Linked DNA regions of Homo sapiens: regions 1 and 3 are each linked to region 2. Evidence: fine-mapped expression QTL. A gene starts in region 2. Each other region holds a variant in brackets. All regions are shown on one strand. Distances are between the middles of the regions. Region 1 holds the start of RABEP1 (rabaptin, RAB GTPase binding effector protein 1). Region 2 holds the start of ZNF232 (zinc finger protein 232). Region 3 overlaps ZNF594 (zinc finger protein 594).

What was found. PIP is the estimated chance that this variant, and not a neighbour inherited with it, causes the effect.
Region 1: its variant is fine-mapped to the expression of ZNF232 in lymphoblastoid cells (GEUVADIS, PIP 0.95).
Region 3: its variant is fine-mapped to the expression of ZNF232 in lung (TOPMed, PIP above 0.99). The same link has a PIP of 0.9 or more in esophagus muscle.

Annotation. Positions count from the first base shown.
Region 1 is chr17:5,278,870-5,287,017 of GRCh38, reverse strand. It overlaps RABEP1 (rabaptin, RAB GTPase binding effector protein 1), which reads right to left and starts at 4,734. Exons shown (of 18, transcript NM_004703.6): 1 at 4,498-4,734. The coding sequence starts at 4,531. RefSeq lists an enhancer at 1,929-2,447 and a silencer at 4,295-5,014. The variant GCAGCCCGCGCGCCC/C (reference allele first, on the strand shown) is at 4,350.
Region 2 is chr17:5,108,272-5,116,449 of GRCh38, reverse strand. ZNF232 (zinc finger protein 232) reads left to right here and starts at 4,572. Exons shown (of 4, transcript NM_014519.6): 1 at 4,572-4,650; 2 at 6,582-7,056; 3 at 7,398-7,524. The coding sequence starts at 4,628. It overlaps USP6 (ubiquitin specific peptidase 6), which reads right to left and starts at 418. Exons shown (of 38, transcript NM_001304284.2): 1 at 1-418. ZNF232-AS1 (ZNF232 antisense RNA 1) reads right to left here and starts at 4,515. Exons shown (of 3, transcript NR_135658.1): 1 at 4,349-4,515; 2 at 2,998-3,064; 3 at 2,068-2,292. RefSeq lists an enhancer at 4,212-4,261.
Region 3 is chr17:5,179,038-5,187,181 of GRCh38, reverse strand. It overlaps ZNF594 (zinc finger protein 594), which reads left to right. Exons shown (of 2, transcript NM_032530.2): 2 at 2,906-7,647. The coding sequence starts at 2,926. The coding sequence ends at 5,349. Among named protein-coding and RNA genes, the nearest start is that of ZNF594, 8.8 kb to the left of the region's middle. The variant C/T (reference allele first, on the strand shown) is at 3,940.

The DNA.
Region 1 (8,148 bases), 170 kb before region 2:
GGCATATGCAAAAACTGATCCCTGCCTAGAACACCCTTCCACCAGATATCCTCAAGGCTAACTCCTCTATCTACTTCAAGTCTTTGCACAAATGTCATCTTCTCAATAAAGCTGCCTGACCAGCCTATTTAAAACCAGCCCCACCCCCTTCCCTTTCTCCTGCTCTGTTTTCTTTTTTCCATTGCACTTATCATCTAACAACCCGTATCATTTGCTTACGTTTGTTGTTTAATATCCGTTTCTCCCACACTAGGGCAGGGTTATTTATTATCTATATTGCCTACTGATGTATTCCAAATGCCTAGAATTGTGCCTGACAAACAGTATGCATTCATATTAGATGAATAAATAGTTTTGTGTGTGTCTATAGGATTATCTAATTAATGGCTGAATGATTCACTACCTGGGAAAGGGACTGGGTCTGGTTTTGTTCATCACTGTATTTCCTAGATCCTAGCATAGGATTCGGCATAGAATAGGCACACAAATACTTGTTAATTGAACAATACAACTCTTTTTTTTTTGAGACAGAGTCTCACTCTGTCCCCCAGGCTGGAGTGCAGTGGCACGATCTCGGCTCACTGCTCACTCCACCTCCCGGGTTCAAGCGGTTCTTCTGCCTCAGCCTCCTGAGTAGCTGGGACTACAGGTGCGCACCACCACACCCGGCTAACTTTTGTATTTTTAGTAGAGATGGGGTTTCACCATATTGGCCAGGCTGGTCTTGAACGCCTGACCTTGTGATCCATCTGCCTTGGCCTCCCAAAGTGCTGGGATTACAGGCATGAGCCACCATGCCCGGCCAAACAATATCACTTTTTTTAATCAAAAGACACAAATTTAAAACAAATGACATCATCCAGAGCTTGTAGGATTACAGGGGAAATCCACCTGCCATATATCGTTGGCAAGTATGTAAATTGATGCCTTGGAGAGTAAGCTAGCAACAGGTATTAAAATTTAAACCACTCGGAACTCATGCCCTTTATTTAATTCACTAGTCTTACAGAAGTAAAAGAGTACCTTAAAAAATATGCACAAGGACATCCATTACAACACTGCTTATAAAATAATTAAAATTTGAAAACAATCTACTTGCCCCACAATAGGGAAATAGGCCATAAATCATGCCTGGTACATGCATATGATAAGATCGTCTTTAAGAAGAATGAAGAAGGCCTACAACACTGACCTGGAAGTAGTCCATGATCTAGTACATAAGCCAGATGGCATGGATTTGAATCCTGCTCCCCCACTTAATAGCTGTATAACACAGGCACGTTTCTTTAACTTCTGTGTGCTTCAGTTTCCTCATCAAGAAAATAGAAGCAGTAATATTCAATAGTACCATTGCTATGAAGATTTCCTAAGATAATGCCTATAGTGTTTGCAGAACATTACATGGCCATATAACCATGAGTATATAATATGATAGCTAACATTTATTAAGTGAGATAGGGAAGTTGCAGACTTATGTATGTAAAGCATGTCCTTCAGGGGTAAAAGGTAGCATGTCTGTGTAACTAACAGGAAACAATCAGGAATCCAGCCTGGCCAACATGGCAAGAATAAAAAATAATGAAGTAGGCTGGGTGCAGTTGCTCATGCCTGTAATCCCAACACTGAGAGGCCAAGATGGGAGAATCACTTGAGCCCAGGGGTTCAAGACCAGACTGGGCAACACAATGAGACCCTCTCTACAAAAGAAAAAAAAAAAAAAGAAAAAAAGTGAAGTAAAACCAGAGCAAATGCTTCAAAGATATAGTTGAACTTAGATTAAAAGAAATACTAAAATTAGAAAATTTTCATTTTTAAATTCTCAAGGGAAAACAGATCAACTGAAATTTCTTTAACTATTAAAATTACCTGTATTCCAAATAAGTAAACTAAGATGCAGTATCAAAAACCCAAAACTTTTTTTAACTTACAAAATAATTACAATGAATAAAATGATTACATTTCATCCCTTCGATTTACACACAAATCGATTTTCCTAATCTACCATATGGCCATGAAAAACAGACAATATTTTTTTTTTTTTAAAAAGTCATCAAAGACAATCGCTTCTGAAACAGGATAAAACAAGATAAAGTCAAAGACTAAGCAGTTAGTTATCTTTCACCACCAGTTTGACACAAAAGAATTCTGGCGATTTTTTTTTTTTTTAATCAGCAGGACTAGGAAATTCAAACGTGCCTAAAGCTAAAATGGTCTACATGAGTTCAGCTAAAGACACAAATTAAATCCCCAAAAGCCGGACTCACGGGCTCACACCTACAATCCTAGCACTTTGGGAAGTGTAGGCAGGTGGATCCCTTGAGTTCAGGAGTTTGGGACCAGCCTAGGCAACATGGCAAAACGCCGTATCTACAAAAATACAAAAATTAGCTGGGAATAGTGGCATGCACCTGTAGTCACAGCTACTTGGGAGGCTGAGGTAGCAGGATTGCTTTGACCCCAGGAGGTCGAGGCTGCAGTGAGCCAAGATCGCGCCACTGCTCTCCAGCCTGGGCAACAGAGTGAGATACTGTCTCAAAGAAAAAAAAAAAAATTAAAATCCCCAAGATGAACTTCTAAGGCACTGACACAAGGCACTCAAACGTACCAAATTATCTCTCTCCTACTGTAAAAAGTAGCCATGGCTACCTACATTAATTTAAAATAAAAATTGCAATCTATGCAAACTAAATCTCATCCTAGAGTCACAAGATTTGAGAAATAGGAAAGAAACCTGAACTAAAATACCAAGAATACAAGATTTCCTAAAGCTAGTTTTCCCTAGCCTCGTTCAAGTGCTTAGTCACTTCTGCCTATTTACAAGGAAGACCATTTCATATCTTCAAAGAGGCAGGGAATTTTGATTCCAGACGGTCATGTCACCTGAGCTGCCCTAGACGTTTCTTTCCATGCAACTCAAGAGAAGGCAGCAGCCAGCTATGCATACCTACCACTCCTGTTCAGAACCACAAGCTCTCTGTATCTTGCCTCTGTGTGCAGTAACAAAGTGGGATTGTGGAAGAACAAAGTTTTCTTGCCTGACACCAAATGCAAAAGGTGATCATTAAAATGCAGCCTGAAGACATCCCAGTTTCCTCTCTCTGACAGCCCACCAAAAATGCTTCCCTTCCCTTCTCCTGGAACAGAAACAGCAAAGCAGGTTCTTATAAAAGTCTAAATGCTTACTGGACATCTCCCCTTAGGCAAGCAACAACACCCAAAACTACAGGCTAACAGGCTCTGAAGCACATTTCCCAGAGAGCAGCCAGAACCTTAAAATCTGATAACATGGTTTCAAGTTCCCCAAAGGCAAAAATAAAAAGTAAGGGTTTCACGAAAGGTTATTTTGAGACAACCCCAAGGAAAGCCAAGTTTTAAAGTACCTACTCCGTACCAAGCCCCTTTTCCCAACATTCTACTCTACTCACACTTAAAGATGCTAAGCACACACGCTGATTATAGAAATACACCAGAAAGTACTTTCACAACTAGATACAGTGGGACCTTGGAAAAGCCCAAGCACACTATTTCCAAACATCTATTCTAGGTGGTAAAACCTGGAACCATGTAGTCAATCTGTGAAGCACAGCTTAGTCCAATTTCCCAGAAGGTCACGAAGGGCTCTGACAACCAACTTTGATTATTTAGGATGGGGCCCTTTTTTCCTTCCAAGAATATAAATGACACATTTCTTCGACTTCACTTTTTTTTTTTTAGTTCCACAAGCAAATATCTTCAAGTAGTGCAAGTAGGCCTCAGCATTCTCAAACACTATTCTCATTATTCCTAATACCTCCATAATACTATTATTGTATATACACATTCGTGTTGCTATTTTTATAGATAAAATATAAAGGCATGAATTAACCTCTTGGTTAATTCGTGGGTGAGAATACTGAGGCTCAACGAGGCTAAGAAATGAGCCCAGAGCTTGCTGGTTAAGAATACAGGTCCTCTAGACTCCCAGGCCCCAACACTTAACCATTAAGCCACACTGCCATTCAGGGAATGCTACTAAATCCAGTTACTGTACACAACTACTTTCAGGTCACATAACTGGGTGCAAAGAGTTCTATAGCAAGGATTGGGGCGGCAGGGAGGGTACACTACCTAAGCTAAGATTTTTTTTCTTTAACGAATATAGCACATGTTCCCGATTTCCATCCTCCCCCACGGGCAGAACCCACGTGCCGGTCCCCCGCTACCCAGAACCGCTCCCTCCCCACACTACCCCACGCTACCCAGCAGCCTCCCCACGCCCTTCCCTCTGCCCTCCCGCAAGCGCTGCACCCGCGCCTCCCGCCCCCTCCCCAGCGACGGCAGCCGGGGCGCCCGCGCCGCCCTCGCGCGCC[GCAGCCCGCGCGCCC/C]CCGCCTCCGCCCGGCGGGGTCACCCCCGGGGCCTGCGCGCGCCCTTGCCGCCGCCTGCCCGCCCCGAAATCCTCCCGCGACGCCGACGCCGGGCAGGCCGCGCCCGCCGCGCCTGCCATGGTGGGCGCCTCACCGTCAGGCTGGGAAGCCGGGCCCGGCTGCGCCATGACCAGGCGGCCGGCCTCGGGGAGCGGGGATGGGCGGGGAAGCGGCGTCCTGGGCTCCCGCGGGCTCAGCTGGCGGAGGAGGCGTCAACCGAGCCGCCGCCGCCGCCGCCCAGAGAGAAACCGCTAAGGCTGGATCCGCCGGCGCCGCCACAGCCGCGGGCAGAGACGGACCCGACCGCCGACCTCCGCCTCCTCATCCTGACAGCGGGAAATAAGCAGTGCGCAGGCGCAGGGGGATGGGGCGGCACGTGACGTTGGCCCGAGGGGAGGGGCGGGGCCTCGGGAGCGCGGAGGGAGCGCGGAGGGAGCGCGGAGGGAGCGCGGAGGGAGCGCGGAGGGAGCGCGGAGGGAGCGCGGAGGGAGCGCGGAGGGAGCGCGGAGGGAGCGCGGCGGGAGGGGAGGGTTTCGGCGGAGCTGGGCGCCTGACCCAGCGGCGCGGGGAGGCTGAGTGCCGAGCGGAGCTGGAGAAGAGGGGCTGCAGCAGAGGCCTGGCCTCTCGAAGGTGCCGGTCCCGGTTCTCCACCCCAGCACAGTGAGGGGAAAAAAAAAAATGAGTAAGAGAGGAGGACCGATGGCGGGGTGCAGTTCCAGCCTCTACCTCTTCTAGCTTTGCGACCTTGGGAGAGTCACTTCACCTCTTGGAATTTTTATCAATATAATGGCTAAGAAAAGTTTAAACGAGGTAATAAAGTATGAAGAACTGTTTCCGACAGTACTGGGCCTGGACCCCAGGTCTTCTGGTGCAGAGGCCAGTATACTATCCATTCAGCAAATACGTTTGGGTTTTCAGTCGTGATAGATGCTGGAGATACAGCCAGGTACAGACCCTGCACTCATGGCAGGAAAGGAGAAATCATATACACAAAGTGTGGCCCTTATACTTGGGCCCCTGGGCCCTATACTTTAGGAACTCCCCTCTAATCACCACTCCCCGTCTGATTTCGACACCTGGAGTGCCCCATGCCAAGGAGGTAGTTTAAAAAGCTTTTTTTTTTTTTTTGGAGATAGAGTCTCACTCTGACACCCAGGCTGGAGTGCCATGGTGCGATCTCGGCTCACTGCAACCTCTGCCTCCCGGGTTCAAGCAATTCTCCTGCCTCAGCCTCCCGACTAGCTGGGACAACAGGCGCACGCCACCACACCCGGCTAATTTTTGTATTTTTAGTAGAGACGGGGTTTCACTATGTTGGTCAGGCTGGTCTCAAACCCTTGACCTCGTGATCCGCCTGCCTCAGCCTCCCAAAGTGCTGGGATTACAGGCGTGAGCCACCGCGCCCGGCCTAAAAAGCTATTTTGAAATCAGAGAGGAGCATCAGGAATTATGTACATTTTAAGACCCAGCAATCCCACCCCAGGATGAGGGAGTCCACAGGGTTTGGCACTTCAGGACCAAGTTCTGAATACTTGTGGCCCCAGAATTCCCTTTCCAGATGGCTGAAGCTGTGGTCTCTTTCCCAGATCCATTCTCTCTATGGCAGAGTCTAGACATCCCTAAAAGAAGCTAAAGTGAAAGCATAAAGAATGAGTTCATGTCCTTTGCAGGGACATGCATGAAGCTGGAAACCATCATTCTCAGCAAACTAACACAGGAAAAGAAAACCAAACACCTCATGTTCTCACTCATAAGTGGGAATTGAATAATGAGAACACATGGACACAGGGAGGGGAACATCACACACCGGGGCCTGTGGGGGGTGGGGGGAAGGGGAGGGAGAGCATTAGGACAAATACCTAATGCATGCGGGGCTTAAAACCTAGATGACGGGTTGATAGATGCAGCAAACCACCATGGCACATGTATACCTATGTAACAAACCTGCACGTTTAGCACATGTATCCAAGAATTTAAAGTATAATAAAAAAATAATAATAGGCCGGGCACAGTGGCTCACGCCTGTAATCCCAGCACTTTGGGAGACTGAGGCAGGTGGATCACGAGGTCAGGAGTTCAAGATCAGCCTCTCCAAGATGGTGAAACCCCATCTCTACTAAAAATACAAAAAATTAGTCGGGTGTGGTGGCAGGCGCCTGTACTCCCAGCTACTCGGGAGGCTGAGGCAGAGAATTGCTTGAACCCAGAAGGCGGAGGTTGCAGTGAGCCAAGATCGCACCACTGCCAGCCTGGGCGACAGATCGAGACTCCATCTCAAATAATAATAATAATAATCAGAAAATCCACTAATTAGAATCAGTTTCTACTTTCTTTAAATCATTTGTTTTAAATAAGGTATACTTTTATTAAAATGATTATTTCTCACTGAAAAAAAGGGAGGCTAAAGGGCAGCTTTGTTTTATTTTAAGGGGGTGACACGACACTTGGGTGTTTGAGCTCCTATGTCCACAGATCCCTCATGGTGCAGGACAGAGGTGAGAAAAGAAGGCAAGTGAGCCAAGAGACAATAGTTGGGCCAGGGCCTGTGCTGCTTTCGCCACCTCATTCATGGGCATAACTCCCAGGAGCCCAGGAATTCTAAATTTAAACCTGGTCTTCCAGGTCTTAAACAGGTAGATTTGTCCAAGTAGAAGGATAGACTGTATTAAGGTTAGCGGTTAATTGGAGTAGTTTGTAATTTTATTTTATTTTATTATTTATTTAATTTTTGGAGACGGAGTCTCTCACTCTATTGCCCAGGCTGGAGGGCAGTGGCACCATCTCAGCTCACTGCAACCTCCACCTCCCGGATTCCAGTGATTCTCCTGCCTCAGCCTCCTGAGTAGCTAGGATTATAGGCGTGTGTCACCACGCCCAGTTAACTCTTGTAATTTTAGTAGAGACAGGGTTTCACCATGTTAGCCCGGCTGGTCTTGAACTCCTGACCTCAAGTGATCTACCCACCTCGGCCTCCCAAAGTGCTGGGATTACAGGTGTGAGCCACCACGTCCAAACTGGTTTGTAATTTTAAATAATTTAGGTATCTATTTGTACTTTTGCCCCAGGTCCTGCCATCGTTAGAGGAGAGCCAAAATACAGACTCGAGTTTTTTGAGCAGTTAATGTCTCCCAAATGGCTGGTGTGCATTTGAGAGAGCAAGCAGGGTCTCCCCAACACCCTGCCCAACCCCCCATAAATGATTTTCCTGGATGAGCAAATCCATGCTTACCAGGAAGACCTTTGGCCAGGATAGGGCAGCCCAGTGCATCCTCTGTATTGTTGTGATGACTAACACGAGGCATAAGCCATAAAGATAGCAGATGCGGCCAGGTGTGGTGGCTCACGCCTGTAATCCCAGCACTTTGGGAGGCCGAGGCGGGCAGATCATTTGAGGTCAGAAGTTCAAGACCAGCCTGACCAACATGGTGAAACCCTGTCTCTACTAAAATACAAAAATTAGCCAGGCGTGGTGTTGGGCACTTACAATCGGGAGGCTGAGGCAGAATTGCTTGAACCCAGGAGGTCCAGAGGTTGCAGTGAGCCAAAATTGCACCACTGCACTCCAGCCTGGGCGACAGAGCAAGACTCCCTCTCAAAAAAAAGAAATAAATAAAAATAAAATAGAAGGGGCTCCTTCCAGTGAGAGAGTGGCAAATTTGTTGCCATTGATAATGAGGCTTGAAGCCAGGCCCTCAAGTCAAGGTCCCTCAGAAATGGTCAGGCATATGATTTGGACACCTAGGGC
Region 2 (8,178 bases):
CGAGACGGCGGCTCACATGGGCCAGAAGTGTTTCCCCTCTCCCCCAGCGGCTTGTCTAGGAAAACATGAGGACTCGGTTCGACTCGATGGTGCGGGCCTAAGCCCCGGGAAGCCGGGAGTGGTGAGGCGGGCCGCCGGGAGCGGGGCCGGGAGTGGTGAGGGGGGCCGCCCGGAGCGGGGCCGGGAGTGGCGTCGAGCAGAGAGCCCGCAGGCGGGAAGTCCTCTCAATGAGCGTCTCGAGCGCTGCCCGCGGCCCCTCCTGACTGCTAGTTGGAGCGGGGACAGCATGGGCGCGGCCGCCAAGGTAGCGTCGAGTGAGGGGAAGACTGATGGGCGCCTGGAGACGAGCTCCCACAGCGGCCACGCATTTGGAGCTGGGCGTCGGGGCCCGCCCGTCCCGCCGCGCCGCTAGCTGTCCCCTCTGCCTGGCCTCCGTGCCTTGCGCCCCTTTGTGCCGTCCAGCCCTACAGCTTTGAGGCCCTTTCGGCGCACGCACCCCGCCCCGATCCCCCGGCGCTATCCCAGCCTTGACGGCCGGGGAGGCTTTCCCTAGCCCGGCGCCTCGAGGACCGCCTCAGTGGCCAAAGGCGGCGCGGGGTGCGCCCGGGCTGTGTCCCCGGGAGGCTGGACCGCCAGTCCGCGCATGAGGCCATCTGTGAGGCACGAGTGCAGGAGAGTGAAGGAGACCGGGGCGTGCTGAGTAGGGACCTCCCTCAGTGACTGGAAGGTTATTCATGGGGCCTTCTGACACTCTAAAAACGAAATTTCTCCGGGGTTTGATGAGTATCAGGGTGGTGGCTTCTTGAGTTTTGAGCAGGCATCACAAATCAATCCCTCTGGAATACAGAACTGCCTCTGTTCCGTTTTGGGTTTTGTGTGTGTGTGTGTGTGTGTTTTTGGAGACGGAGTCTTGCTCTGTTGCCCAAGCCGGAGTGCAGTGGCGCCATCTCGGCTCACTGTAACCTCCGCCTCCCGGGTTAAAGCTGTTGTCCCGCCTCAGCCTCCCGAGTAGCTGGGATTACAGGCGCCCCCCACCACGCCAGGCTAATTTTGTATTTTTAGTAGAGAGAGGGTTTCACCATGTTGGCCAGGCTGGTCTTGAACTCCTGACCTCAGGTGATCCACTGGCCTCGGCCTCGCAAAGTGCTGGAATTACAGGCACGACCCACCACATCCGGCCCTCTGTTCCTTGTTTCGAAATAACTCAATTAAAAGTCAGAGGCTCACTGGCCACATCTCCTTCCACCCACCCACCGCCCCACCCCCCAAAAGATGCCTCTAGCAAATAAAATGAGACGTCCTGATGCCTTCCTGGCTCGTTCCAGAATTTTTAGCTTTGACTTTTGACGTGGGGTCCTTCTACCTAAAGTCCCCGCCGTCACATCAGCCCCCAGTTTTCCTCTGTCTTAGCTCGGGCTGCCGTAACAAAATACCATAGACTGGATGCCAGACAACAGAAATTTATTTTCTCAGTTTTGGAGGCTGCAAGGCTGTGACCAGGGCCCAACATGGTCAGGTTCTGGTGAGAGCTCCCTGGCTGCCTTCTCACAGGGTCCTCACATGGCAGAGAGAGAGGGACCCAAAGCCCTCTGGTGTCTTTTTTGTTTGTTTGTTATTTTTTGGGACGGAGTCTCACACTGCTGCCAGGCTGGAGTGCAGTGGCCCGATCTCGGCTCACTGCAACCTCCACCTCCCAGGTTCAAGTAATTCTCCAGCCCCAGCCTCCCAATTAGCTGGGATTACAGGCACCCACCACCACACCCGGCTAATTTTTGTATTTTTAGTAGAGAGGGGCTTTCACCATGCTGGCCAGGCTGGTCTCGAACTCCTGAGCCCAGCTGATCCACCCGCCTCGGTTTCCCAAAGTGCTGGGATTACAGGCGTGAGCCACTGCGCCTGGCCAGAACTCAGTCCTTACAGAACATCAGAGAATCCATACAAGGTGAGAGAGAGGCCTTATAAATGCATTGGGTGTGGGAAAGATTTGAAGGGGAGCTCACAACTTATTCAGCATCAAAGAATTCACAGTGGAAAGAAACTTTGTGAATGCAATGAATGTTCAAAGACTTGTAATCAGAGCTCACACTTTATTCGACATCATAGAATTCATAGTGGAGAAAAGCCCTATGAATGTGACAAGCATGGGAAAGCCTTCAGATGGAGCTCAGACCTTGTGAGGCATCTGGAAATTCATATTGGAGATAAAGTTTTGGAATGTAGCGAGCGTGGAAGAATTTTCAATCAGAGCTCAGGTCTAATGCAGCACCAAAGAAACCATACAGAATCATAACCCTAGGAAGACAGTAATGATAAAGATGTCAGTATGTACATATAGGAAGAGAGAAGGAGAGTTTGTTTTTGTCCTAACTATTTGGAAAATTGTAAGCTTCCTAAGAGCAATTTTCATCTGATTCAGTGTATAGTACTTAGTCTCAGGTCATGTGCAGATATGTCCTTCCCAAATGCTTACCACAAGATAAATCAGAAATCTTGACTGGAATAAGCTTCTAGTTCCTTTGCTTTATCATGAGAGGTTCCACACCACAGGAAAATCTTGTAAATGGTGGAAGCTGCATAAAGCACCATCATCATCACAAAATGGTGTCCTTGTGTGTCCTGTTTAGCAGCACCGAGAATCTAATAGCTTTCCCCTTGTCTGTTTTTCCTTACTATGAATTGTGCCAGGGGAACAGTAAAATGGGTATGATATCCTGAACTCTAGGGTGGATGTCTTTCTGGGACAGAATCTAATCCAAAAGTCTGCAAATGGACTTGAGGTTTTCACATTAGTATAAATGTCAATATGTAGTTTAGGGAATTTGCCTTATTCCTCCATTCCTAGCAAAATTAGATACAGAAGCAGCTAATTAAATCAGGAAAAGGAAACTGACAGTAAGTCATAGGACCCATTGTCTTCTCTCATGTAAAAGTAGAAGTTGTGATTCAATCTGTTCTGTAGGATTTAAAAGTATAATGGCACATTGAAGTTTGACATACTGAAATTCAGGCTCTGTCAATTTCATCTCTGTAACCTTTATTGTTTCTGAGTCTTGAGTTTTCTCATCTGTAAAATCAAGATAATGACATTAATACAATCCCTTGTGGAGCAACTGTGAAGACTAAATAAGACAATTTCATTAAGTTCCTGGCATAGTTCTAGACACGTAGTAGACATTCAACAAATGATAACTATTTTTATCCATAGCTCCTACGTGCAGTAATTATCAATGGCACTTTGAAGGAAAAAAGATAATATATCCCCCAGCCATGGGGGTGTCAATGCGCATTTTCAAGGATACTATATCTTGGAGAAACAAATTTAATAATCTGAGAATCTGAGAACTGTTACTATGGTACTACACAGTTGAACAACAATTTTTCTTGGAGAGACTAGGATTAAGCTATTTTATAAAAGTATTGAGAGACTGGATCAATCAATATCCTGCAAAATTGATAGTGAGATAAATTTATTTTTAATTAATTTTTTTTTTGAGACGGAGTCTCACTCTGTCGCCCAGGCTAGAGTGCAGTGGCACAATCTCAGCTTATTGCAACCTCTGCCTCCCGGGTTCAAACGATTCTCCTGCCTCCTGAGTAGTGGGGACTACAGGCGCCCGCCACCACGCCCAGCTAACCTTTTTGTATTTTTAATAGAGACAGGGTTTCACCATGTTGGCCACCATGTCTCAAAAAAAAAATAAAAAATAATCGGCCGGGCGCCTGTAAACCCAGCACTTTGGGAGGCCGAGACGGGCGGATCACGAGGTCAGGAGATCGAGACCATCCTGGCTAATATGGTGAAACGCCGTGTCTCCTACCAAAAAAAAAAAATTAGCCGGGCGTGGTGGCGGGCGCCTCTAGTCCCAGCTACTCAGGAGGCTGAGGCAGGAGAATGGCGTGAACCCGGGAGGCGGAGCTTGCAGTGAGCCAAGATCGCGCCACTGCACTCCAGCCTGGGCGACAGAGCAAGACTCCGTCTCAAATAAATAAATAAAATAAAAAATAACAACAACAAAAAAACACCAACCCCTATTTCCCCCATCGCAATAAAATTAACCTTAGAATTCTTTTTTCTCCTCCCCTCCCCCTACGCCCCAGGAATTGTACAGGCTAGTGGTTGGGGAATATTTTTTCGTGGAAGGGACCGTCTTCCTTAGCTGTGGCCCTCTCATCAGGTCTGGGAAGAGGTAATTGGAAAATAGAACTCATGGAGAAGTGTTACCACAGGCCATGGACAAGGCCAGAATTTCCCTGACATCTGTCCGCCAGCACCGCCCTTCAGGTACAATTCCACAAGAGACCCCCCAAACTTGATGAAGTCACCCGCTTACAAGGGCTCACTCTCCACCTGCGCAAGGACTGCAATTCCCAGGGGCCTCCAGGGCACCCGGCCGCTCCAGTCCAGTCGTGCAGGCGGCGCGCTCTTTCTCGCTCCGCTCAAGTCCAGGAACCGGTTCCCGGGCTCCCAGCCTCTCGGCAGCGCCCACGCGCCTGGGCCAAAGTCCGCGAACGGAAGCCGGCGGCGAGGAGGATTCTGGGAGTTGGAGGCCGAGGCTGCGACCTGCGCAGGCGCAAACCTGCCCCTGGGGTGAGGGCTGTAAGTGGCGCGATTCGCGGCAGCGCCCCGATGGAACCTCCTGGTCCTGTGAGGTGAGTGTTGGCGGCGGCTTCCCCGAGGTCCACCTGGCGGCTTGGCTTTTGCCCGTCCCGCAGGCAGCGGCGGCTCTGCAGTGAGCAGGCCTGGCAGGCAGCTCCGCGGTTGTGTGTGGAGAGGGGTTTGGGTTGCCCGTGGTGCCCGCGCTGCGCTACCTGCGTTGCGTCGCGTCACGTGCCGTGGAGGGGGGTCTTGATGTTCCTCTTCTCTTTTCTCGAGACCCTTGGGTAGGGAGTGAAGGGTGGGAAGGGGAGTTGTACCTGGCCTGGACGACAGCCCCCTCCCCGGGCGGGCACCTGCCCGAGGCCGGGGTAGAGAAGTTTTGCTGGGGCCAGCGGCGCCGGGCATCACCCTGGGAGACGCGAGCTCCGCGTTTTTCCTCGCGCCTCCTTTGTCTTAGGCCAGCGGTCCCCCTTTGTGCTCCTTTCGTGGCCTCTGATGCGTTCCACCTCCTTCCCTGTGTGAAAGGAAAATAAAATCTCAGGACCCCAAACTTACTATGACAAAGGGAAAAGTTAAGCTTGGAAACTGAGTCACGGAAAAAAACTGCTTTTCCTTTTGTTCCTAAACCGATAGCTGCAAGATAGAAAGCAACATATGCCCCCAGGTGGCCTCCCTCACCCTGGCAATGGAAACGAACAGCCGAGCTTCACCGGACAAGACTAGAAATCGTTCCTCCACCCACCCAGAGACAAAGCATATTTGACTTCTTCCTCTACTGTATGTCTACCTTATCTTGTGTAAAATGCAGATTTACTGAGCACGAGACAAATTCATAATTGACTTCCTCTTTTCACGTGCAACATGTGGATTCAGTGAGCTCTAATCAAATCCTCACAAGAATGTGGCCACTTACCTCACCACATACCCTCCCTCTTCTCTCCTCCTTCCCCTCCTGCCAGCTTTCTCCCCATTAAATTGAAGCCCTCAAAACCCTCTTTGGTAAAAGTGCGAGCCACGGATCCTACTGTGGCTTGTGTGTCTTTTTCCTGGGTGCATCCTCAACCTTAGCAAAATAACCCCTAAATTGGTTGAGACCTATCTCAGATGCTTTTTTGGTTTACACCTGTTAGATTTCCTTGACGCAGGCCACTGTACCCGAGACTTGTTCATAGCTGCCCCTTAATAGGGCTTTGGCATTTGAATGAGATCCAGCTCCTTAAAGGGGACTTATATTTTTCTTTTGCTGTAGCTACTACTTCAGAAATTTTTGAAAGCAGGGAGGAGCCATCTCAGAGGAGGCTGCCTCCCCAACACATTCCACCTTGCACTGAAAGCTGCTCGGCTCTGGGCTCTGCATCTGGAAACTTGGGTTTTGCTTCAAACTTATTTCTTCCAATAGTCATTTCTTCCCATAGGCCCCCAGAACTTTTTTTTTCTTGATACATTTTTCCTGTCAATGGCATTTAATTAGTTGTATTATAGAAAACCACTTTACATCCCCGTTTCTACCACGGTGCAAGTTTCTCAAAAACATTGACTTAGTGCAGCAGAATTCTGGGGAGGGGTGGAAGAAAAAGCGGGACTACAGGGCATAGGACAGGGTTTGGCTCTTTGGAGTGTTGAGTATATGTATATGTTTAATGAATGAAAAAAGAAGAGGAGGACGGGCGCGGTGGCTCATGCCTGTAATCCTACCACTTTGGGAGGCCGAGGTGGGTGGGTCACCTGAGGTCAGGAGTTCAAGACCAGCCTGGCCAATATGGCAAAACCCCGTCCCTACTAAAAATACAAAAAAATTAGCTGGATGTGGTGGCAGGCGCCTGTAATCCCAGCTACTTGGGAGGCTGAGGTAGGAGAATCGCTAGAACCCCGGGGGTGGAGGTTGCAGTGAGCTGAGATCATGTCACTGCACTCCAGCCTGGGTAACAGAGAAAGACTCTGTCTTAAAAAAAAAAAAGAGGAATGATTTCTTCTTATGTTACAGGGGGCCCTTGCAAGATTCCAGCTGGTATGAGCCTTCTGCAGAGCTAGTGCAGACTAGGATGGCTGTATCACTAACAGCAGCTGAAACTCTGGCCCTTCAGGGTACACAGGGACAAGAGAAGATGATGATGATGGGACCAAAGGAAGAGGAACAGTCTTGTGAGTATGAGACCAGGCTACCTGGGAACCACTCTACCAGTCAAGAGATCTTCCGCCAACGCTTCAGGCATCTCCGCTACCAGGAGACTCCTGGTCCCCGGGAGGCCTTGAGCCAACTACGAGTACTCTGCTGTGAGTGGCTGAGGCCAGAGAAACACACGAAGGAGCAGATCCTGGAGTTCCTGGTGCTGGAACAATTCTTGACCATCCTGCCTGAGGAGCTCCAATCCTGGGTGCGGGGACATCACCCTAAGAGTGGAGAGGAGGCTGTGACTGTGCTGGAGGATTTAGAGAAAGGACTTGAACCAGAGCCGCAGGTGGGAAGGGGGATTTGGTCTGTTATGGGAGCCAGATTGATGACCTTCAGGCTGGACCGAGGGGCAGCTGTAGGGGGAGGTGCCAAGTTCAAACCTCTCTTGGGCCAGGTAGAGCAGTTAGTATGTGTTTCTGTGTCTGTCTTTTCTGCCCTCGAGCCCTGAATGAGAAAGAGACTCTAGCTCCTCTTCTTCCCTTGTGCTGACTCTGAGGAGGCTCTCTAAAGTCTCCTTGGAAGCTTTGGTCCAAGGAGGGTCACATCTGCAAGTGTCCAGGCAGGGGACAGAAACCACACTAGTAATTTGAAGAAAATTTAAACTGAGTGGTGCCTGATCACCTCCAGGTCCCAGGCCCTGCACATGGACCTGCACAGGAAGAGCCATGGGAGAAGAAGGAATCTCTGGGAGCAGCCCAGGAAGCACTGAGCATCCAGCTCCAGCCTAAGGAGACCCAGCCTTTCCCAAAGAGTGGTGAGGAGCAGGATTCTGTGGGGAGGGAGAGGAGAAAGAGGGACTATAAAGGGCACAGTACCTAGTACCTGTAAAGGGTAAATAGTAGTAGGTGCTTAAATGTTTGGTATCATCACAGCCTTACTATTCTTATCTCTTAGGTGAGAGACTTTGCCTGTTTCATCACTCATAAAATTAGGAGTAAGAATAAACTACCTCATAAGATAGCTCTGAGGATTAAGCTCAACTTGGGTCTTATCTGGATATAAAGCCTGGCCAGCATCTCTTAACTTTAGAGAGCCCTAAATCAGGACCAGGAAATAGCTCATTCATTTATGCCTTATCATCTCCACTGCACTTAACTCCTAGTCTATAATAACTCTGCCCTGAGCTAGAGGCCAGCCTTGAGATCCTTTTTTTTTTTTTAAACTCGCTGAGGCCTCGCAAAACACTTTTTAAGCCATAAAGCACTCCTATGTGAGATACAGCCTGTCATCACCTTTACCACCTCTTCCTCATGTAAACAGCCCTATCTGAAACTCTCTTATGTGTGCCCTCACCTTCTACCCTTCAGATTCACTACAGAAACTTCCTTCTTGGCCTGCATACATACCTGCAAACAACCTCTCCTCTCTCCCAGCGGCGAACACTAGACTTAGAGCCTCAGGGGCGTGA
Region 3 (8,144 bases), 71 kb before region 2:
CCATGTGGAACTGTAAGTCCAATTAAACCTCTTTTTCTTCCCAGTCTCGGGTATGTCTTCATCAGCAGCATGAAAACATACTAATACAGTAAATTGGTGCCAGGGGTGCTGCTGAAAAGACATCCAAAATGTGGAAGCAATTCTGGAGCTGGAGAACAGGCAAAGGTCGGAACAGTCTGGGGGGCTCAGAAGAAGACAGGAAAATGTGGGAAAGTTTGGAACTTCTAGAGACTTGTTGAGTGGCTTTGACCAAAGGCCTGACAGCATTATGGACAATAAGGTCCAGGCTGAGGTGGTCTCAGATGGAGATGAGGAACTTGTCGGGAACTGGAGCAGAGGTGACTCTTGTTATGTTTTAGCAAAGACACTGGTGGCATTTTGCCACTGCCCTAGAGATTTGTGGAACTTTGAACTTGAGAGAGATGATTTAGGGTATCTGGTGGAAGAAATTTCTAAGCAGCAAAACATTCAAGGTGTGACTTGGGTCCTGTTAAATGGATTCAGTTTTATGAGGGAAGCAGAGCATAAAAGTTCAGAAAATTTGCAGCCTGAGAATGTGATAGAAAAGAAAAACCCATTTTCTGAGGAGAAATTCAATCAGGCTGCAGAAATTTGCATAAGTAACAAGAAGCTGAATGTTAATCCGCAAGACAATGGGGAAAATGTCTCCAGGGCATGTCAGAAGTCTTCACAGCAGCCCCTCCCATCACAGGCCTGGAGGCCTAGGAGAAAATGGTTTTGTGGGCCAGGCCCAGGGTCCCAATGCTGTGTCCAGCCTAGGGACTTGGTGCGCTGCATCCCAGCCGCTCTAGCCATGGCTGAAAGGGGCCAATGTAGATAGAGCTCAAGCTGTGGCTTCAGAGGGTGCCCTAAGCCTTGGCAGTTTCCACATGGTGTTGAGTCTTTAGGTACACAGAAGTCAAGAATTGAGGTTTGGGAACTTCCACCTGGATTTCAGAAGATGTATGGAAACGCTTGGATGCCCAGCCAGAAGTTTGCTGCAGGGGCAGGGATCTCATGGAGAACCTCTGCTAGGGCACTGCAGAAGGGAAATGTGGGGTCGAAGCCACCATATGGAGTCCCTACTCGGGCACCTTCTAGTGGAGCTGTGAGAAGAGGGCCAATGACCTCCAGACCCCAGAATGGTAGATCCACCTACAGCTTGCACCGTATGCCTGGAAAAGCTGCAGACACTCAACACCAGCCCGTGAAAGCAGCCAGGAGGGAGGCTGTGCCCTACAAAGCCACAGGGGTGGAGTTGCCCAAGACCATGGGAACCCACCTCTTGCATCAGCATGACCTGGATGTGAGACCTGGAGTCAAAGGAGATCATTTTGGAGGTTTAAAATTTGATTGCCTTGCTGGATTTCGGACTTGCATGGGCCCTGTAACCCCTTTGTTTTGGCCAATTTCTCCCATTTGGAACAGCTGTATTTACCCAGCAATACCTGTACCCCCATTATATCTAGGAAGTAACTAGCTTGCTTTTGATTTTACAGGCTCATAGGAGGAAGGGACTTGCCTTGTTTCTGTTGAGACTTTGAACTGTGGACTTTTGGGTTAATGCTGAAATGAGATGAGACTTAGGGGGACTGTTGGGAAGGCATGATTGGTTTTGAAATGTGAGGACATAAGATTTGGAGGGGCCAGGGGCAGAATGATATGGTTTGGCTCTGTGTCCCCACTCAAGTCTCATCTTGAATTGTACTCCCATAAATCCCATGTTTTGTGGGAGGGATATGGTGGGAGATAATTTGAATCATGGGGGCAGTTTCCCCCCTACTATTCTCATGGTAGTGAATAAGTCTCATGAGATCTGATGATTTTATCAGGGGTTTCTGCTTTTGCATCTTCCTCATTTTCTCTTGCCACCACCATGTAAGATGTGCCTTTCACCTCCCACCATGATTCTGAGGCCTTCCCAGCCATGTGGAACTGTAAGTCCAACTAAACCTCTTTTTCTCTCCAGTCTCAGGTATGTCTTTATCAGCAGCATGAAAACGGACTAATCCACTGGGGAAGGTCAGGGATTTGATAACGTGGACCCTCAAAAGCAATAAGCTCATCTATCTTGTAATTTCAGAAGAAATCAAATTGCCACACAAAAGGAGGCAATTCCATCAGAATATCAGAAAGAAAAATGTGAGGTCTGAGAAGAAGAGAATTGATTTCTATTGAAATGACAGCCAAACGTTTTTATTCTGAGGCATAGTACAGATTTGCTTAACTATCATGATATATAGGGAGGAAAGAGCAGTATGCTGGTTATTAATTTATTGCCTCTCAACTCCAGATCCACCCATCTTTGTTTGCTTTTGTTACAAAGCTGGATTCTGTAAACATTTCTCCTTTGCCAGTTCGTACAAGATTTGACTTTGTCAACAGAGGATGCTGGAGGGACAATGCGTGGCCATGGGAAGAGAAACTAACTTCCTGGTACCGGTGTGCTGTTCTATTTTTATTTATTTATTTTAATTATTTACTTATGTGGCTGCTAGCAGATCAACTTGTGGGAGGCCTGGTGGCATTTACCCTAGTGGGTTGCTTCCTGTGAACCAGTTCAGGCCCAGCCACACCATCCAGCAAGTTCCTCCCCCATCCAACAGGCCACTTCCTGTGGACCAACTCCAGATTGCCCTCCTCCCCCAGTGAATTAATTCACCACCCTTTAGGCCACTCCCACAGCCCAGCTCCAGCCTGCACCCTGGCGGGTTTTTTCACCAACAGGGTATGTGGTAGCACAGGTTCCTGTGTTAGCCACAGTGTCGCTAGTGAAAGCCACATCTCAGCTTTGGCAGGGAAAGGTCTTCTGAGTTCTTTGTTCCTCCCTCTTAGACTGCCCAGTATAATGAAGAGATGATATTTGTATTTTAGGAATTATAGAATGATCTACTTATCATTTCAGATTCTGAAGACAGGAATAAGATGAAGGAATGGAAATCAAAGATGGAAATTTCTGAAGAAAAGAAGTCAGCAAGGGCTGCATCCGAAAAACTCCAAAGACAAATCACCCAGGAATGTGAGTTAGTTGAAACCAGTAATTCTGAGGACAGATTATTGAAGCACTGGGTAAGCCCTTTAAAGGATGCAATGAGACATCTCCCTTCCCAAGAGAGCGGTATCAGGGAAATGCATATTATCCCCCAGAAAGCCATTGTGGGAGAGATTGGCCATGGATGTAATGAAGGAGAAAAAATACTTTCTGCAGGAGAAAGCTCCCATAGATATGAGGTTAGTGGCCAAAACTTCAAACAGAAGTCAGGATTAACTGAACATCAGAAAATTCATAATATAAATAAGACCTATGAATGTAAGGAATGTGAAAAAACCTTCAACAGGAGTTCAAACCTGATCATACATCAGAGAATTCATACAGGAAATAAGCCATATGTGTGTAATGAATGTGGGAAAGACTCTAATCAAAGTTCAAATCTTATTATACATCAGAGAATTCATACAGGAAAGAAACCTTATATATGTCATGAATGTGGAAAAGACTTCAATCAGAGCTCCAATCTGGTGAGACATAAGCAAATTCACAGTGGTGGGAATCCCTATGAGTGCAAAGAGTGTGGGAAGGCTTTTAAGGGAAGCTCAAACCTTGTCCTGCACCAGAGAATCCACAGTAGGGGGAAGCCATATTTATGCAATAAATGTGGGAAGGCTTTCAGTCAAAGCACAGATCTTATTATACATCACAGAATTCACACTGGAGAGAAACCCTATGAATGTTATGACTGTGGACAGATGTTCAGTCAAAGTTCACACCTTGTCCCACATCAGAGAATTCACACTGGAGAGAAACCCCTCAAATGTAATGAATGTGAAAAAGCCTTCAGGCAGCATTCTCACCTTACTGAACACCAGAGACTCCACAGTGGAGAGAAACCCTATGAATGTCACAGATGTGGGAAGACCTTCAGTGGGCGCACAGCTTTT[C/T]TTAAACATCAGAGATTGCATGCTGGAGAGAAAATTGAAGAATGTGAGAAAACCTTCAGCAAGGATGAGGAGCTTAGGGAAGAGCAGAGAATTCACCAGGAAGAGAAAGCTTATTGGTGTAATCAGTGTGGTAGGAATTTCCAGGGCACCTCAGACCTCATCAGACATCAGGTAACTCATACAGGAGAGAAACCATATGAATGTAAAGAATGTGGGAAAACTTTCAATCAGAGCTCAGACCTTCTGAGACATCATAGAATTCACAGTGGAGAAAAACCTTGTGTATGTAGCAAATGTGGGAAATCTTTTAGGGGCAGCTCAGATCTTATTAGACACCATCGTGTTCATACTGGAGAGAAACCCTATGAATGTAGTGAATGTGGGAAAGCCTTTAGCCAGAGGTCACACCTTGTTACACACCAGAAAATCCATACTGGAGAGAAGCCCTATCAGTGCACTGAATGTGGGAAAGCCTTCAGGCGGCGTTCACTCCTTATTCAACATCGGAGAATTCATAGTGGTGAGAAACCCTATGAATGTAAGGAATGTGGGAAGCTCTTCATTTGGCGCACAGCTTTCCTCAAACATCAGAGCCTGCATACTGGAGAGAAACTTGAATGTGAGAAAACCTTCAGCCAGGATGAGGAGCTTAGGGGAGAGCAGAAAATTCACCAGGAAGCGAAAGCTTATTGGTGTAATCAGTGTGGTAGGGCTTTCCAGGGCAGCTCAGACCTCATCAGACATCAGGTAACTCATACAAGAGAGAAACCATATGAATGCAAAGAATGTGGGAAAACTTTCAATCAGAGCTCAGACCTTCTGAGACATCATAGAATTCACAGTGGAGAAAAACCTTATGTATGCAACAAATGTGGGAAATCTTTTAGGGGTAGCTCAGATCTTATTAAACACCATCGTATTCATACTGGAGAGAAACCCTATGAATGTAGTGAATGTGGGAAAGCCTTCAGCCAGAGGTCACACCTTGCTACACACCAGAAAATCCATACTGGAGAGAAACCCTATCAGTGCAGTGAATGTGGGAATGCCTTCAGGCGGCGTTCCCTCCTTATTCAACATCGGAGACTTCATAGTGGTGAGAAACCCTATGAATGTAAGGAATGTGGGAAACTCTTCATGTGGCACACGGCTTTCCTCAAACATCAGAGACTGCATGCTGGAGAGAAACTTGAAGAATGTGAGAAAACCTTCAGCAAGGATGAGGAGCTTAGAAAAGAGCAGAGAACTCACCAGGAAAAGAAAGTTTATTGGTGTAATCAGTGTAGTAGGACCTTCCAGGGCAGCTCAGATCTCATCAGACATCAGGTAACTCATACAAGAGAGAAACCATATGAATGTAAAGAATGTGGGAAAACTCAATCAGAGCTCAGACCTTCTGAGACATCATAGAATTCACAGTGGAGAAAAACCTTACGTATGCAATAAATGTGGGGAATCTTTTAGGAGCAGCTCAGATCTTATTAAACACCATCGTGTTCATACTGGAGAGAAACCTCATGAATGTAGTGAATGTGGGAAAGTCTTTAGCCAGAGGTCCCACCTTGTCACACACCAGAAAATCCACACTGGAGAGAAGCCCTATCAGTGCACTGAATGTGAAAAAGCCTTCAGGCGGCGTTCACTCCTTATTCAACGTCGGAGAATTCATAGTGGTGAGAAACCCTATGAATGTAAGGAATGTGGGAAACTCTTCATGTGGCACACAGCTTTCCTCAAACATCAGAGACTGCATGCTGGAGAGAAACTTGAAGAACGTGAGAAAACCTTCAGCAAGGATGAGGAGCTTAGGGGAGAGCAGAAAATTCACCAAGAAGAGAAAGCTTATTGGTGTAATCAGTGTGGTAGGGCTTTCCAGGGCAGCTCAGACCTCATCGGACATCAGGTAACTCATACAGGAGAGAAACCATATGAATGTAAAGAATGTGGGAAAACTTTCAATCAGAGCTCAGACCTTCTGAGACATCATAGAATTCACAGTGGAGAAAAACCTTATGTATGCAACAAATGTGGGAAATCTTTTAGGGGCAGCTCAGATCTTATTAGACACCATCGTGTTCATACTGGAGAGAAACCCTATGAATGCCCTGAATGTTGGAAGGCCTTCAGTCAGAACTCACACCTTGTCAGTCATCAAAGAATTCATACCAGAGAGAAACCCTTTGAATGTAGCAACTGTGGTAAGGCCTTCAGTGGGTGGACAGCTTTTCTTAAGCACCAGAAACTTCACATTGGAAAGGAATTTGAAGACTGTAAGAGTCTACAAACAGGACCTATTCTAATAGGTAGCAGAAACCTAATGAATGCAGTAAAACTAGGAAAAGTCTGATGGAGACCACATCTTATTGCACTACAAATGAGTTTTATTAGAAAAAAACCATGGGAAGGTGGGAAAGCAGAGAAAATACCTACTGGATTTTTCAAACGTAAGTATAATCAAGTGGAAAAGCCAAAAGCTCTTGGACATAATCACCTTTTTTTTTTCTGTCTCAGAACTGACACTAGAATATGGTCCCAACGATACAATTTTTTAAATTATTTATTTTTTAACATACAAAGAGATGAGGTCTCACTATGTTGCCCAGGCTGGACTTGAACTCTTGGGCTCAAGCACTCCTCCCTCCTCAGCCTCCCAAAGGGTTGGGATTACCGGCATGAGCCACTGCACCAGCCCCAGGGGTCTAATTACTTGAGAATGTTTTAAGGGATGTCTATCATTATTAAAATCATTATAAATCACTTTGGCAACAACCCCAAAACTAAATTATTCATGGAAAGAGCCATTTCAATCTTGACTTCCTAGTCGAGTGACAAGTTTAAATGTGGGAAAAAACCCTGTGAAAGTAATGAGTGTAGGCCAGGTGCGGTGGCTCGTACCTGTAATCCAGCACTTTGGGAAGCCAAGGTGGGCAGATCACGAGGTCACGAGTTGATCATGAGGAGTTACTATGCCCAGCCAACATACTAAAACCCCGTCTCTACTAAAAATAACAAAAATTAGCCAGGCATGGTGGGGCACGCCTGTAGTCCCAGGTACTTGCGAGGCTAGGGCAGGAGAATCACTTGAACCTGGGAGGTGGAGGTTGCGGTGAGCCAAGATCATGCCACTGCACTCCAGCCTGGGCAACAAGTGCGAAACTCCATCTCAAAAAAAAAAAAAAGTCTAACTCTTCTGCTTGTCTTTACAATGCTGTACAGTGAGAGCTAATGTTTATAAGGATAAACAGGATACTTACAGGGATTTGAAGGTAATTTAATTCAGTGGTTTCCAACTTTTTAATCACCAAGGCCTTCTTTTTACTCCCCTATGTCCTGTGTCTTAAAAGATTATGTTTACCAAACTGCATTTATTAAAGAATTATATTTTGCTACATAAAGGCATGTACAACACAAATCATGCTTCTGACTGGCACCATGTAGGCAGACCTAGGTACTAAAATTCCAGCCCAAAGCAAATAATTTACCATTTTCATTAGTCTTTTTATTCCTTTTGTGGGCAAACATATCGTCTATGTTAGGCTTTTTGAAATATTAACTATGACTTGTAAACTCCAGATTAAAAACTAACCAATTCATCTTTGATGGAGCTTGAATCAAACTAAGGGTATTGGACTTTTGAAAGATTGAAATTTTTGTTACAGTATGGAATGTTTTTAACTGAATGTTGAAATAAAAGTTATTTAAGAATTACTTAGTGACTGTTTAGTATGTGCCAGGGGCCGTAATTAGATGGGGCTGAAGAAAGATAGTCATTGTTGAATCTTCTTCAGGTAGACCAGGTCCTCCTTGAGGTTCTCAGGCTGCATCTCCAGGTTGGCTCCGGCCAGGGTCAGCTTGTCCAGCCCCTGGTGCAGCTCCAGAGACCCAGCCTCGCTTGGTGCAGAAGTCATTGGCAGCCAGGTGGGCATCATCCACCTGTAGCCAGCACTTCTCCATTCTGCCAACGTCTCCGGCCTGGTGAGTCTGGATGTGAGCGCATCCCAGGGGGCCCAAGGCACAGAGAGAGAGAGGAACGGGGTGGAGGGAGGGAAGTGTGTGCAGGGGCCAGGAGCGCCAGGCTGCTCGGGCTTCCCGGCCCCTGCAGCCCGCCAGGAGCTGTGGCCAAGGCAGAGGCCTGCCCTGCTGCTGCTGGCGCTGTCACCTCCCTGTGGTCCTGCCTTCTGGGTCCTTGAGGGCCTCCTGTCATC